2 separate regions of the Homo sapiens genome follow, and region 2 is linked to region 1. Evidence: fine-mapped expression QTL. A gene starts in region 1. The other region holds a variant in brackets. All regions are shown on one strand. Distances are between the middles of the regions. Region 1 holds the start of SRRM4 (serine/arginine repetitive matrix 4). Region 2 overlaps SRRM4 (serine/arginine repetitive matrix 4).

The links. PIP is the estimated chance that this variant, and not a neighbour inherited with it, causes the effect.
Region 2: its variant is fine-mapped to the expression of SRRM4 in lung (TOPMed, PIP above 0.99).

What each region holds. Positions count from the first base shown.
Region 1 is chr12:118,976,861-118,985,188 of GRCh38, reverse strand. It overlaps SRRM4 (serine/arginine repetitive matrix 4), which reads right to left and starts at 3,648. Exons shown (of 13, transcript NM_194286.4): 1 at 3,176-3,648. The coding sequence starts at 3,306.
Region 2 is chr12:119,153,235-119,161,562 of GRCh38, reverse strand. SRRM4 (serine/arginine repetitive matrix 4) reads right to left here. Exons shown (of 13, transcript NM_194286.4): 11 at 7,914-8,024; 12 at 7,180-7,320; 13 at 1-5,068. The coding sequence ends at 4,765. Among named protein-coding and RNA genes, the nearest start is that of HSPB8, 22 kb to the left of the region's middle. RefSeq lists enhancers at 6,861-7,391, 7,392-7,924. The variant C/T (reference allele first, on the strand shown) is at 3,625.

The DNA of each region.
Region 1 (8,328 bases):
TTCATCTGAATGTAGTTGTCCATCAGGAGTTGAAATCCCAATAAAAATGGTCAGCATTACTTGGGGGAGAAATGGGTAGGCATGGAGAACACAATGATGAGGAGTTGTTGCTTTCCTTTTGGCCACTATAAGCTTTGTTCCAGAGTCAATGTCTACTAAACAACACCATGCACCACACATAGGGGTAGAGCTTTACCTAACTAAATCCTTACAACCTGTTGTCTGAGGGGTTACTGTTATTATTTCTATTTTCAAGCTCAGTGTGGTAAAACTATTTGTTCAGGATACACAGCTAGTAAATGATAGAACCAGGACAGGAATCCAGGTTGTCTCATGCTCAAGTCTGAGCTCTTAACCACTATGATATACTGCTTCCCACTCTGCTCTACTGTTCTGACATTTGAGGCAGACATCTGGTTGCAATTTGATACATTATAAAGCTATTGCCTCATCAAGTATGCCCCACAGAGGGGTAGAGGAGAAAGAGAGACTAAGCAGGGGGTTGCTTAGATTGCAGTTGCATGATGTATGCATATTGCTATGAAATCAATGAATTGAATATATGTTTCTATCCTGGTACTAAATTACCTTGAGAGATAGACTTAAAATATCCTGAGGAAGTTTATTCAGAGGGGTGGCCTTCATCTATAAACAAATATTAAGTGTGACACCAACAGGACTGACTAGTGGTTCCTCCACCCACTCCCTGCCATCCCCCTGCAGACTGCTACATGTGCTGGTTTGCCGACTGTGATCTGGGCTTGACTCATGGAACTAAACGACATTTCTGATGAGACCAAGTCCCCAGATTGCCTCTAGAGGAAGCCACCCAAACCCAGCTGATATTGTGCCAATGCCTCTGTCTTCTTTCCTCTTGAGAACTCAGCTTTGGAAACATGGTACTTTCACCCTTAAGTAAGTGTAGAATGTTGAAAAGGAAGTGGAAATTGAATGTCACTGGATGTGGCTGGCTTGGGTGAGAATGGGGATGATTCAGGTTTTATCCAGTCTGTTAAAAGACAACTCCAATCCAACCTTTCCTGAGGACTTGGAAACAAATGTTCCCTTCTCACTCTCTACCCCAAACCAGGAGTAACAGTTATAAAACCGGAATCTGTTCTACAGAGAGGCCACGCCTATTACAGAAGTATTACACAGGATTCTCCTAGCGTGACATAAATCCAGGGCTTATGGTTCAGGCTTTCACCTCAGGGGTGGTTTCTAGGGCAAAGGAGACCCACGACATTAAAAGGCACCAAGAGTGAAATGATACTGGTTGCAGAGGGGGAGTGGAGTATTATAAAAGTCTCAGGATTACATTAGAATTAGCAAAAAGCTGCAGAAAGGATGAGGGTTGAAAGACCTTGTGGGCCATTCATGTGATTGCAAATATGACCAAGAAAAGGGCAGGACAGTAACAGAGAGACAGACAAAAGTGGAAAGTACCAAGCAAGGCAGATAATAGGTGTGCTTTCCTGAATCAAAACACCACCAAGAATCCGCTTTCCTCTCCCTGCACCCCTAAAATAGATGGAAGACTCTGGACTAAATGCCATACTTCTAGTTTCCTGTGAAATTTCCTCTAGTTCCTTCTACAAGGGCATTTTCTTTGGCCAGTGCAGCACCTGATTAGCCAACAGTAGGTACGTTCCAAAGGTGGAATAGATAGCAGAAACCCAGGAAGATAAAAACCACTGACGTCAAAACTCTATACACAGAACCTCCTTCGGAGCAGAGAAGCATCAGCCTTTAATGGCATTTGGTATTATTGTTCCCCTTCTCCAGCCTGTGTCAGTGGGTGGGTGGGTGTCCCCTCCTTCCCGTCTGCAAACACTGGCTGGTGCTGCTTTAGCTTGAAGCCTGCTACACCCTACTGGCCTGTTGTGATGCTTGGCCACCCATTCCTAAATGGGACACCTATTTCTCTAAAGACCTGTATGATCCTCAATAAGACAGTGAAGAGGAAAACTTCTCCAATCTGGCTTTGATTCTTCAGACATAATTTCCCATACGTCTTCCACCTCACACTCACTGGAAAGTTCAGAATCAGTTGTGCCAGAACAGACGTTCAGTCTGTCCTAAGCACTTTTGCAGACATGTTTTCAATCTGCTCCCTAATGCAGACTGCCAGGATTAATAAATCCTCCAAGTGGTCCCCCTGGTCCACTTCTTTCTTTTCTCCTACTAAACCACTCATCCAACACCAGCAAAAGATGAGTTTTCATACTACCTTGATTTTCCCTGACAGAGAGCACAGCCTTCTTCCCTTCATTCTTAAACTCCTCTAAATTGAATGATTTATGAAAAGAATTGGATTTTTCTCTGTCTTGGAATGCTTCCATTTTCCCCCAACCTCCTCTCCCTCTCACCCCACCTCCTGTTCCCCTGTTTCTTTCATTTCTTCCCTTATTCTTCCTTCCATCAGCACCATGTCTACCACCATCCAAGGATCGGTTCTCATCCCTGAGTTCAAAGCAATCAGATTCTTTTTGGAAAAAAAAAAAAAAAACAAAAAAAAACAAAATAAAACTCTTCCAAGATCATCTTCACGATCTTGGAAGGCTCCTCCCTGACTCCTGAGCTCAGAGTCTTGGTTTTGGATGCTGGAGAGGAGAGAATTCAGCAGCAGCGGCAGCAGCCGCCAGAAAGGCGTGGAGGAGGGTGCTGTTTTGGGTGTATTTGAGGGAACAGCATATGGGCTTTTGTCAAAAATGTTCAAAGCTCGCTAGTTTCCGAGCCGAGGATGGAAATGTGTGCTATCTCTGAACGCTGCTTGAGCTGGCTCAGTTCTCCTTTTCTGGTACAACACCCCCCAAACATCTCAAATCCACCATTCCTTGGCCCACCTGCCCTCTGGACTCTGTGACACCAAGAAAAGTTTTTCAGTCAAGTCGTACCCCATCTGCACCGCCCACCCTCAGGTAGCAAAACCTCTTGAATAGGAGCTACGGGGGTCCAATAAGCGTTGCTTTCCCCCAAAGAATTCCTGTCCCTTCTCACCATCTTCCACCTCACACAAGCAATGAGTTCCCATGTTTCAGCGGGAGCCGCCGAGTAGTGACGGGAAAAGACAGGCGCCCTGGCCCGGCTGCCTGCATCCACCCCTCCGGGCTCTGGGGCACAGGCCAGAAAGGAGGACCTTCAGGATCCCCCCTTCTAAGAAGGAGATCATTACCTTGGCAGCGGCTTGCGGGCCGTGATACTGGCGACAATGATGCTCTCGGGACGGGGGGTGGCCACCGCTTTGAAGGTTCCTCGCCAGAACTTCTCAAAAAGCTGCTTCTCGCCTTGCTGAACGCTCGCCATCGCCAACCCAAAGGGGCCGGGGCGTCCGGGGCGCTGTCCAAAGTGCTGAAACGTGGATTCCAAACGGGGGCGACACCCAGCTCCCGGCTCTGTCCGGGTGAAACCCAGAGAGGGGTGGGGTGGGAGAGATCGGAGTTCAGGGCGGGGGATGGGACGCCCCAGCCCGGGCAGGCAGCAGAGAAAGGAGGCTCGTCCGCTGGGCTTTCTTCGCCCTTCTGGGTCGGCTCCAGGCTGCGCTCTGAGCTGGCTGAGCCTCTGCGCCCCAAGAAGGGAAGGGAGGGCTGGCTTTCTGGGCAGCACCAGGAGAGAAGAGGCGACGGGGTCGGATGTGTGTGCGTGCGCGTGTGAGCTCCGGCGCGCCCGGGTTTTGTCTCTCGCACAATGTGACGTTGGAAGAGGAGGCTGGTCGCGCGAGCTGCACTTTCCTCCCCCCTCTCCGTCTCTCCTCCTCCCCACCAACCCCCTCCTCCTCAGGCTCAGCCTCCTGCCGCCATCTGCATAACAAAAGCCCGCAGGTCTTGGGAGGAGAAAGGGCGGGGCGTGCGCCTGTCACCAGGGCCCCGCGGCGACCGAGTTGCAGCGCTGATCCCTCTGAGAAGCCATCCTGGCACCCCAATCTGCGCCAGGCAGGAGATCCTGCTTCCCAGGCCCCTCTCCTCTCCCATCATCGCTGGCCTTCCTCAGCCCTTTCCTGGGTGCCCCCTTTGGGCCAGGCCACCTTTCTTTCCAGCCCCTTCGCAAGTCTTGTAGCTGATCTTCTGCGTGGGGGGGGGGGGGGGGTTGGGGGGGCTCGTAAAAAACTTAATCTATCCACCCCAGCCGGCCTCCCCCAGACCCTCACTTTTGGGAGACACGGCCTAGGCCGGTACAGAGGGTGCCCTGCGTTCCTCTTTGCGCCGGGGGTTAGCGAGGTCTCCACCACCCAGAAAGTGCCATTTGATAGACAATCCCTCACCAATTCGGCTTCTCGCCATCTGCCGAGCAGGGCCCCCGCCCGCCAAGGGGCGCAGCGTTACATCTGTGCATGCGGAGCTGTCAAGGGTATCTCTTTTGTGTCTCACAGCCGGCCTGCCCAGCGTCCCCGCCGCCAACCCCGTCCAGAGGAAAGAGTTCCCATCTCACCCCACCCCACCCCCATCCACTCCTGGGGAATCCGCCTGCAGCCACTTTTCCTAATGCCGCTAGTCTCGGGAAAGGAGTACGTTTTGGAAAAGAAAGCGCTTAGTGGGAGGGTTGGAGAGGAAAATCTCGAGGATTAGCAGGGGGATAGTTACTTTTCGGTCTCTCCTCCCCATCTCCTTACCGCCTCGCAGTTCAATCGTAATCCCAAGCAAGTGGAGGTTTAGAATCCCAAATCAACCCCAGACACAGAAGATCTGGTTAGAATGACTCTTGTTTTCCCCCAGGGTTTTCATTATAAAAAAAAGAGATCGTGGCGGGACCCCTCAGCCCTTGCCTTCCTGGAAGCCTTTTAATCTTAGCAGAGTTGTTACTCCCCCATCTCCCACCTAACGCCCTCCCCCTCCCCCCAACCCCGCTTCCACTTTCCAGGCTGTAAATTCCTGGAAGGAGGCCTCGCTCAGTCTTAAATGCCTCCAAGCACCTGGTGCTGAGTCCCAGTCACAGCGAGAATAAACTCCTGCTCTTTGCTAAAGCAGATAGCAATGGGGACCCAATGAGGGCGGGGTAGGGCGGGGGGGTCGGGAGAACAATGGGAACTCCAGAAATTCTCTGAAGGGGAACAGGAGGTAACTAGGAGGTGAAGATGAAGAGGCCAACAGAGAGGATAAGATGGGGCAGGAGAAGAAAGAACCTTGGAGTAAATGAGTACCCGCCCCAAAGGGTATCTACGTTTGAAGTGTGTGTGTTCGACACGCCTGCGTCCGCTTATTTGAGTGCCTGAGAGCGCTACTTGCTCTGCAGTGACCCCTTCTGGTCAACAACGAGAGGTGCATTTGCTGGCTTCTTATGTGGGTTGCCGGGGGAGAGGGCCCAGAGGTGGGGGTCAGGCCTGGGAAGGTTGGAGATGGAGCAAAGTGGAGACTAGGCTAACCCCTTCCCTTCCTCTCCCTCTTACCTTGCGCCCCAAATCCCCCATTCCCTGATTGGGCTAGACCCCCGTTTCCCACCCAGAAGTTGGTATCATTGTAAATGCAATCTAGAGCTGGCTTCTTATAGGTAGCAGACTGGCATCTTTAAAACTAACCTTAGTCATGACATTTAGGGTATGAACTGAGTCACTTGCAGGAGAGAGGTAGGTGGGATCCTACCCCCACAAGATCAGTCAACATCTTCCAGTTGTGTGCCTGCTCCTAATCCCTAAAATGTTGATAGAGCTCCCATATGCAAAACATTGCCTTTTTAAAATCCCATCGTAGCCAGATGAGGTGGGAGAGAAAGCTGATCTTATTCTATTTTATTTATTTATCTTATTTCAATAGCTTTAAGGGTGCAAGTGTTTTTTGGTTACATGGATGAATTGTATAGTGATGAAGTCTGGGCTTTTACATACCTGTCACCCGAATAGTACCTTACCCCCAAAAGGCCATTATTAAAAAGTAAAAAAAAAAAATAGATGGTGTAGATGCAGTGAAAAGGGAACAGTTATACACTGTTGGTGTGGATGTAAATTGGTACAACAACTATGGAAAACAGTATGAAGATTTCTCAAAGAACTAAAAGTAGACCTGCTCATTCTTTTATAAAGACACATGCATGTGTATGTTCACTGCAGCACTACTCACAATAGCAAAGACATGGAATCAACCTAAATGCCCATCAGTGATAGACTGGATAAAGAAGTTGTGGTACATATACACCATGGAATACTACGCAGCCATGAAAAGAATATCATGTCCTTTGCAGGGACATGAGTGGAGCTGGAGGTCATTATCCTTAGCAAACTAACATAGGAACAGAAAACCTGATACCACATGTTCTCACTTATAAATGGGAGCTAAATGATGAGAACACATGGGCATATAGATGGGAATAACACACACTGGGGCCTTTTGGAGGGTGGAAGTTGGGAGGAGGGAGAGGATCAGGAGAAATAACTAATGGGTACTAGGCTAAATACCTGGGTGATGAAATAATCTGTTCGACGAACCCCCGTGACACAAGTCTACCTATGTAACAAACCTGCGCTTGTACCCCTGAACTTAAAATAAAAGTTAAAAAACGTAGACCTGCTATTCGATCTTACTCTGTTTTAAACATGAAGAAGTTGAGGATGACCAAGTGACTTCCCCAGGGTGATCCTGTAGGAAGCAAAGGAAATTTGTGAAAAATACAGTTTCTGTTTTTGCTTGGTGGGGTGGAGGATGGAGTGGGATACTACGCATATCAGGATGGACCACCATTTAAAAATAAATCAGATAACAATGAGTCACATACTTAGAAGCACCTGGTGTTGAGGTTCCTAAATTGGGAGTCTGCAGTAATCAGTTCAGGACTTGGAATCCAGAATGCCTGGCTTCAAATTCCAGCTCTGCCATTTCCTAGCTGTGTAATGTTGGAGGAGGGATTTCACTTGCCTATGTCACAGTTTCTTTATCAATACTATGAAGAATTTTTTTTTGAGACAGAGTCTCGCTCTGTTGCCCAGGCTGAAATGCAGTGGTGTGATCTCAGCTCACTGCAACCTCCGCCTCTCAGGTTCAAGCCATTCTCCTTTCTCAGCCTCACTAGTAGCTGGGATTGCAGGCGCCTGCCACGACGGCCCAGCTAATTTTTTTTGTATTTTTAGTAGAGATGGGGTTTCATGAAGATTCTATAAAGATTATAAATAATATGTTTAGATGAACTAGCTGTGAGGATTGAAGGAATTAACACACATACAGGTTCTAGAATGTGTCTGAAACACAGTTTACTCAAAAATATCAATTACTCAAGTGGTTAAAAGCCCAGCCTGTGGATTTAGAGAGAACTAGGATATGAAGCCCAGCTCTGCCACTTTGTAGCTGTATGAGCTTGGGCTAATAACTAACCTCTGCCTTTGTTTCCTCATTTGCAAAAGTGGAGATATCACATCGTGGTTGGGAAGATTAAATGAAATATTACTGGTAAAGGACTTAATAAATTGTCCAGTTTATAGCAAGTGACCATTCAATGGTAGCTCTTCTTGCTCATGATCTTGGAATAATCACCTGTTACTATGTTAAGTCAGGCCATATTCAGTTCAATAATCATTAACTGATGCCCAATCTTGCATCTTGGCCAGGCACAGTCCTGGGCACGGAGGACTCAAAGACAAACCAGACATAGTCCCTTCCCTGAAGCAGTTCACAGCCTAATTCTCCTTCTGGGTCTCCACTGACTAACACTTGTCCCCTTTTCATCTTATCACAGTGACTTCTGCTTTAGGTCTGGCTTCTCCAATATAACGTGAACTCCAGTTCCTCCATCACTTTATTAAAATAGAACCATCTTGTGCCTCATTCCTTCCGGGTATTGCTTTCTGTTTCCCCAGATGCAAGCCAGCCCACCCCATAAACAAGGACCTATTAATATGCTGGTTAATGAATATAAACTTATGGCACAATTATTCCTTGCCCTCTGTGCTATACTGATGGTAGACATCACTGATCCTTCACAATACTCTTTCTCAGACCGACCCTCAGAATCCTTCTTAACACACAGTTTCTAGATAGCCACTACTAATAGTTTGGTCTTGGCATTCCAGATAAAATCAATTTGCCATCCATGTCTAGAGAATGTTTCTTTACCTGATTGGTATTGTTCTTTCATTTGAAAAAAGGGACAGCAGGGAGAAATGATTCTAAACTTTGCAAACCCAGGCACTCTAGAGCAGGAGCTAAGAAGATTCTTATGCAACCTTCTCCTTAGTGATCCAAAGATACAGCACCTCCAGCTCAGAGAAATAGCTACCCCTTCTCCTGAGGCAGTTCAAATCCCACCTCACTAACATTACCATGTTACCTTGGGTAAATCTCTTAATCTTTCTGTGTCCACGATTTCTCTGAGTACAATGGAGCCAACCATTATCTACCAGCATCAGAG
Region 2 (8,328 bases), 180 kb before region 1:
ATAAGCCATGTTCTGATGGGGGTCCCCCATCATGGTATTTACAATGCAAAACAACAGCCATCAAAAGAACTAAAAAAACACACACAGAAACTTTTACTCCAAAAACAGCAACCACAGATAGAAGAGAGATGACATTTCTGTCAGTATCATTGGCTCACTGGTGCAGAAGTGAGAAGAACGAGACTTCAATAAAGCATTGCTCAATGACATTGAATCTAGCATAAGTTTCTCAGCTGGACTCGGCTGGCCAGTGCGGGAGGAGGCATGTTTGGAGGAATCCTGTTTTTTGACTTCGTTTTACTGAGACAAAATTTTCTGTTCAGCTAAAGGGGAAAGTGGGGCAAGACACATGCGCATGAGACCATTTTGAACATTTGTGAAAAAGAAGAGGGGAAAAGAAAACAGCAGAAGAAAAGATGAAAGTTGGACTGGAGAAGGAAAACAATGTGCTTTCTTTGCCTTTGAGAGCACCCTGAATTTTGGCCTCTCCAAGCAGACCCTTTTGCAAAAGAGGATGGGTCTGAGCAAATGAAGTGATGCGGTTCTCTGAGACTGAGACCTTTGTTCTAACATCTTAATTTTATTCTGCTTCTGAAAGATCAGCTGTCCTTCAAAGAAGGGAAGGAATGCAGATAGGAATATGATCAAACCTCAGTGAACCAGAATGTTACTAATAGGGGGCTTTGAGTTACTTAGCCTTGCCTAATTAACTGAAGGGAGATCAAATCTTGCTTTTCGTTTTTACTTTCATGATGGACAACCTCCTAAAAATGTTTGAGGCTCTTTTCCTTTTCCCTCTGAGTCTCAGTGAAGCTCCCTCTGTCTTTGGTGACACTCTCAGGCCTCAGGCCAACATTTTGAATTTTTATCTCACAAATCCCTCCACTTAACAGAGGTCGAACTTTGCCCTAGGGAAAGGGAGCAATGTATTCAGTTTCTGTCATCCAGTGCACTTCCATAGCGGGAAGGTCAAAGGCTTGGGATGCATGGCGCTTGACCTCAAGCCACATCTCCCTCCCATTTTGGATGTTGGTTTTTGAGATAAATCCTCACGACGAGCAGCATCCTGGTGATCTGTCATATTCCTTGGAAGCAGAAGGTAATGAGGGTGAAATGGGCGTAGGAACAGCGATACTGGGAATGGGAGGTTCTGGTTAATCAGGGTTACCAGTGCCTCAACAAGCACATTGTTTTTGGATAGAAAAAAAGGAAATGTAAAAGAAAGTAGAGAAATACACTGAGAGAGAGAGAGAGAGAGAGAGAGAGAGAGAGACAGAGAGAGAGACAGAGAGAGAGACAGAGAGAGAGAGAGGCAGAGATTTCCCCGAAGCAGGCATTTAAGCAGCCTTCTTGTAAACTTCACCCAGGAAAGGGGCACTCCCTTGCTTTGGGTTAGGGCTGGATAGTCACATTGCCAGGGAAACAACCAGGGATGTTGCAAAAGTCTCACCAAACCCAAAGCTGGACCAGACAAGCTGGCAATTGCAAGGCAGTGGACAGTGACTTTGGAAAGGGCAAGAGCTGTCTCCGGCCAGCAGCCAGAAGACACTGCCAGTTGGTCAGATAAGCAGGACTGATGACCTTTGGATCCTGGGCCCTTCCAGGATGGGTTTGGAAATGACCTTCTTGGTGGGGTCCTGTGGAACATCTGGCTGCTCCTTCCACCTTTTTTTTTTTTTTCCTAATTTCAGAAATAGCTTTGTGCTTTCCCCTGATGAAACAGCAAGAGATCATAGATAAAAGCTTTTGCTTTTGGCTTGGTGGTTCTCAAGCAAGATGGCTGATGCCTCTTCCCAAGGTAGCCTTCAGATCTCAGGGGACAGAGAGAAATTAGGTACTGTGGAGTGGAAGCATGTGTAACATACATGAAACCAACTAGGTGTGCTCAGAGAAGCTAGGGAGTGATCCTGCTATGTGCCTTGGAGTGAGGGTGAGATCAAGGTGCATCTTCCCTCAGTCAGCTCAATTCCTGCCTCCATTCTCATGGTGTGAGCACCTTGTCAACCCCAAGTGCAATTCCAGTACTAAACCAGACATCATTTTCATCCACCATGGCCCTCAAAATACAAGGCAACTACTTCAGCAAGTACTCAACTGAAGCCTCATCACTCTGTTAGGAGATAGCACATCTGTCTCCAATCTGGTGCCTCCCTAAGGGACATTCACAAGGGATTTCGACTTTGTGCAGCCTTGGCCCCATTTGCCAACTTTCGACTCCAACCCCCACCTAAGTTGCAACTCCACTGTGTCAATTCATCACTGTAGCTCATAAGCCTCTGGGCTGTTTACATCTTTTTGATACCCCTGTGAGGTTCCTGGGGGACAGGAGGCTGGGGTACAGGCCTGACCCTCCTGGACGCTGGGTTAAGTGATGAATTTTGGGACTGATGTGCCTCCTTCTGGGCCAACCCCAGGGTGTTCCAGGCTTAGAGCCTTCAGGGAGAAGGCCAATAGCCCACTCACCTTTGGCCTCTCAAATCCCATCCATAAAAAACAGCAGAAAAAAAAAGGAGATGCACAGAAATAATTTAGGAGATCCCCCCAACACACACACACACACACACACACACACACACACACACACACACACACACAAAACCTCTGTATAAATAAATAATTCAATACTGCTAATGGCGAGAAAGAGAGACAGTCATCAAATAAATAAATAGATAAATAAATAAAATAAATAAAAAGGTTTGCTAGGAGCCCCAGGCAAAATGGTCCCCTAGAGTTGTCTTGATGAAGGCAGTCCGAACGTGAGGTTCTGATGCCTCTCACAGCTGTCCTGCTAAGAAGGTTTTTGGTGGCTCTGGGAAGCCTTTGTCTCCATGGAGGGAGACTGAAGTCCAGTCTGGGTTCCTGGGCAGGGACGAGGGTTATTTACAGTGGCTGTACTTGCCCTCCCCGGGGCACCTGCCCCTGTCCCAGGCACCTGCCATCTGGCCTTCTGCAGTGACAGCACTGGCATCCATTAGTCTTTGTGGGCAGGGCTTAGGTCTGGGCCAGAGGCCCGGTATGGGGAGGCTGGGTCGTCCACTGCTGCCCGGGGCCCTCACTCCTGTCTTCTGATGGAGGAAGGGCTGTCGTGGTGGTGGTTGCATGGCAGTCTCTAGCCCCATGGGTTGATAGGATGGGAAAGATTGGGTAGGGAGACGTCACTGCTTCCAAGAAAAAGGACTATTTTCCAAATGTTTTCCCTGGGGTGGGAGGGATAAAGAATGTTTGGCCCTTGCTTCCCCATAACCCAAAATATCCAAAAGCTGGGACCGGTCCTCTCTCCCTCGCTCCCTCCGTGCCCTGTCCTGCTGCTGTTGCCACCACAAACTTGAAACTCACCCACAAGCCTCCGGAAAGCCAGTCAGCTGGTGAGGGGGATGCCCAAGAGTTTATTTTAAGGATCTTATTCCTCACCTCCCCGTTCTTAGCGCCTTCTGTGGATGAAGCAGCTGGTGGTATTTGTGGATCGGAGATCAGCTTACCCTCTCTGCCCAGCCCCAGCCAGGGGGGACTTGGGGTGAGGGCAAAAATAAAGGTGGGTCTTTCCCAAGCTGACAAGAAACCTCAGAAGCCAGCAGGAGCCCAAGACATGGCATATCCAAGCCCCTCTCCCCTGCACTCTGGATT[C/T]GGGTCTTTTCCCCCAAACCTGAGCTGCTGTGCCCCATCCTGGCAAAATTCCTGAGAGGCAAGGGGAGTGGCTTAAGCTGAAGGGTGGGTGGGTAGGTGCCAGGCTGCACTGGGTGGCATCCAGGGCGTGGCAGCCTGGGCAGAGGGGAGGGGGCTGGCAGGCGCCAACCGGAGGGTAAGGCCAGACTGGCTGGCGCTGGGGCCTGGCAACTGGCCATGGCACTGGGGAATGTTCAGCAGATGGTCCCGTGGAATTAAGTTGGTGCCAGCTAGTGGGGCTGAGGCATATTTGGGAAGTGGGGCTGGAGACCAACCTGTCCTGACTCTTCCACTATCTCCTTTCTCGTGAGGTTGCAGGGCCCCTGTGAATGGCCAAGAGGTGTTTTGTGTCAGCCATGCAGTGGCCTCTTCACAGCTGGGATCTGCTGGGCTCTGTCCCCTTACCATGCTGAGGTATTGGGAGCAGCAGCTGAACCCTTCCGTTTTTCTATCTATCATCTTAACCAACTCCTATCTCCTGACACCTCCCACCAAGTCAAACGTCCCCATCTGGTATTCAAGGATATCCCTTCTTCTAGGACCCAAATGTCTTCCAGCCTTTGCTTGGGCCTGTTTGAGGAAGTTAAAGGCCTGACCCCGTTATCTTGAACCTGAACTGCCATTGGTCTCCTCTTTCACCCCTCTCAGACATGGGGGTCCATCCACGTGCAGCCATGAAGTTGGACTAGTGGGGCATCCGGGGAGGTGGGGAGAATTACCACGGGCCTCCTGTGAGCAGTGGAGGAGAAGAACTGTCTCCACATTTTCCTGGCCAGGGCTCAATTTTTGAGTCACAGACCCATTGCTTCTCACAAAACCTTGAAGTTTTCTTTTCTTTCTTCTTTTTTTGTGCCACAAGATGATGGTTCTTTCCATATGCCCAGGCCTGAGCTGGGCCCCAGGATGATGCTGGTAGAGGCTCCTAGCAGGCTGATCTAGAGAGTGAAGCCCCCTTACCCTCTTCTCCTCTTCCCCTAGGCAAGCAGGAAGGACAAGGTATAGGAGCCCTCACTATTTGTCACCAAGAAGGCGGGGAGGGCAGGTGGTTGGGGGAGGCTGGCAGCGCGAAGGGGCCCCCACGGGCAGCTGGCTCAGGGGCACTTAGCGCCTCGTGCTGGAGTAGCTGTCTGCTGAGCTGTAGCTCCGGCTCTGGCTCCTGCTCCGGCTCCGGCTCCGGCTCCTGCTCCGGCTCCGGCTGCGGGAGCCCGGACTAGGGCTGCGGGAGCTAGAGCTGCTGCTCGTGCGGGTCCGGCTCCGTCTCCGGCTCCGGCTCCGACTCCGGCTCCGGGAGTAGCTGCGGCTGGCCGAGCGGCTACTGCTGCTGCTGTACCAGGAGGAGGTGCTGCTGAGGCTGCCGGATGAGGAGGGGCTGGGCCGATAGTAGGGGATGGGGCGTTTCCGGGCACTGCAGAGACCAGAGAGAGGAGGGATGAGGGCCGGCCCCTCCGTGCCTCCCCGCAGCGAGCCCCAGTCTTGTCCCAAGGGAAACCAATATCCTCCCTTTCCCCAGTCCCTTAGGAAAAAATACTCCCTTTCCACTTCTCTTGCAGTGCTGAGAACACATCAAAGTAAAAGTCTCAGCTTAGTGCTAGTATGTCTTGAAAAATGATTATCTCACTTTTTTCTTTCCCCCATGAAGCAAGCCTGGAGCTCAGAGCCTTCAGCTTGCAACAGAATCTACATCTAAACTTTAATCATAGTTTTGTTTTCCTATTTTTACTTTTACTAGAACCATCTATTTATGGCAAAAGAGGCTAATTTTCCATTTACTGTACTGTATCGTTTCCTTTAGAAATAAATGTATGAACCTTTGAAAAGAGTCATATCTATTTAAAGAAAATTAAGAATAGTACAGTTGATAAACAGACAAGTCATATGTGGTCAAGATACTGGTGAATGACTAAAGATTGGGAAACACTGAATGGGTTAATCAAGATGAATTATTTGAGATTGACTAAAGAAACTAGACAGCCATTTGGAAATGCCACTCTCTATCTTAGCTTTCCTCTAGGTTGACCCCAAAGATAATAATAATACCAACAACTTCTATTTTGTGCTTATTATCCTGGCCACTTAATAGCTGTGTGACACTGGATCAAGGGAGTGGGTTTAGAAATTATGCTAGGAATTATATTGTATTATATTATATTAATTACATTTTTTCAGACAGGGTCTCGCTCTGTCACCCAGGTTGGAATGCAGTGGTGCGATCTCGGCTCACTGCAACCTCCACCCCACTCCAGGCTCAAATGATCCTCCCACCTCAGCCTCCCAAGTAGATGGGACCACAGGTGCACACCACCATGCCTGGCTAGTGTTTTGTATTTTTGGTAGAGACAGGGTCTTGTCATATTGCCTAGGCAGGTCTCAAACTCCTGAGATCCAGCAATCCGCCTGCCTTGGCCTCCCAAGGGTTTAGGAATTCTTTACAAGCTGAGGCAGGGTGCCCTGTGGGATATTGGAGAAGGGGACCCATCACCCCAGCCTTGCTATCTGGGAAACACATTCTTTTTCCTCCTCCAGGTCATCTCCAGGGAGAATCCCTGATTCCTCAGTCCAGTGTCTGGACTGAGTGGCAGATGCCTGGAAGGCCAGCAGGAAGAGCCCAACCCAATCTTAGGGCAGCATTCAATCATTCTCCCAGCTTTCAAGGCCTGAGAAATTTGCTTGCACTCAGACTTCTCTGCTAGAGCTTTTCTCTTCTGAGGCCTTACCTGTTCCAGGAACGGTATCCACCTATTCTGACCATTCAATCAACAATGGCACATTGTGTACTCTGCATTCAAGTTTACAAAGCACGTTCACATCTTTTTGCCCCTTTTCATTTCATCCTCATGCTTCTGGGAGTTATTTCTTCCAATATCTCATGGGTGAGAAAACTGAGGCTCAGGAAGGTAAGAGCCTTTCCTAGGTCACCTGCAAAGTGGTACATTCAGGATTCCAATCCACATCCAGTGCTCTCCGGCTTATCCACCGTGGCTCCCTCTAGGTCCCTTTGGGAACTAAGCAATCCTGTTTGTCCTTTCCACACTTGGTTCAAGGTATAATTACATATAGGTTTATTTAAGCCTGACAGCTGAGTGTACAGGTCTGAGGGTAGAGGTCTGTCTCCGCTGCTCGGGATCCACCACCAGGCCAAGGTCCTGCTCCATTGCTTTGGCCTCCATTCCCTGGCCTGACGCCACTCTCTCCCCCAGCTCCGCCTCCCCGGCCCCAGCTCCACCTCCCCGGCCCCAGCTCCACCCTCAGGCTTTGGCCACTCCCCCATGCCACACCCGATTCTTCAGGCTGGCCCCGCCCCCTTCTTGCAGGCCCTGCTGGTTGAGCTGGGAGACTCAGTCCCAAGGCTTTGAACAGACACGTAATTTCAATGATGTTGGGGTTGGGGGGACCATAAGCTCGCACAATCCTAAATCCCAGCCCCAAGGAGGCCTAGGGAGAGCCTGAGGCTCGAATGAGTAAGAATGGGAGTGGGAACGAGGATGAAGGTGGGTCCCCCTTGCCCCCTGGCCTCACCTGGTTATCCTCCGGGCCTCCAGGTGGCTCGGGGAGTCTCTCCGGCGCTTTCTCATAGGCGAGTAGGACCGACGTCTCCGACGCGCTCGCTCGCGCTCCCGCTGCTGCGAGTCCTTCTCACTGTATTTGGGATCCCGCTCCCTGAAGGGGCGCGGGGGGTTACTGGGGAGCTGGGGCTGGGCTGGATTTTCTGCGTGAGCGCGTGGGAGAGGGACACTCCCTTTCTTTCCCACCCCACTGGGTCACGGGATGGGGTCTGCACGTTGCCGCAAGGGAGACCGGAGGGAGGATGACGGGGCTGCGGTAAGAGTCTGCGAGGGTTGTTAGTACCGTAGGGGTGGGGGCTGGGCTTGTGCAGGGGTGTCAGCATTTGCAGGTGGGCATCATAGCAGGGCAGGTGCTGCAGGGGTGAGGACGTGAATGTTACGCAGGCCCTGGTGCGTGGGTAAGAACTGGGGGCTCTGAATATGGGGACGGTCTGTAGAGGCTGAGGGCTGGGGATGTGAATTCTGGGGTATGTCTGCGGGACTGTTTGGGCTGGAGACATTAGGAAACAAGGGTATTTGATGCCTCGCTGCCACTCCTGATTGGACAAAGGGAACTGTAAGAATGCTGAGTCAGGGTCAGACCTAAGAGGAAGAAGGCCCGAGAACGGGGAGGCGGGGCCAGAGAGGAGGATCAGAGCAAAGGGGTGGGGCCTAGGACGGGCCTAGTTTGAGGGGCGGGGCCGGTACCTGCTGGGGCTGTAGCGGGAGTAGCTAGGGCTGCGGCGGGACCTAGAGCTTCTGCTGGGCGGGCTCCTCTTGCCAGACTTGGAGGAATAGCTGGGAGAGCGGGAGTAGGACCTGGGGGAGAGGTAACAGCCTCTGAGGAGCCTGCTGAGTGTCCGCCTGGGTTATCCAAGACGGCTTGAGCTTTATTCAGCGGGTCCCTGGGCAGTGACCTTTTTCTTTCTGGAAGCCAGGCAGAGGAACTGGGCCCCGATCAAAGAATGAAAGCCCCTCCCCACCGGTGGTTAATAATAATACCAACAACTTCTATTTTGTGCCTACTATCCTGGCCACTTACTAGCTGTGTGACCTTGGCAGATGATTTCGTTTCCCTGGGCCGTTTTCTTGTCTATAAAATGCAGGTAATAATAGTCCTTAC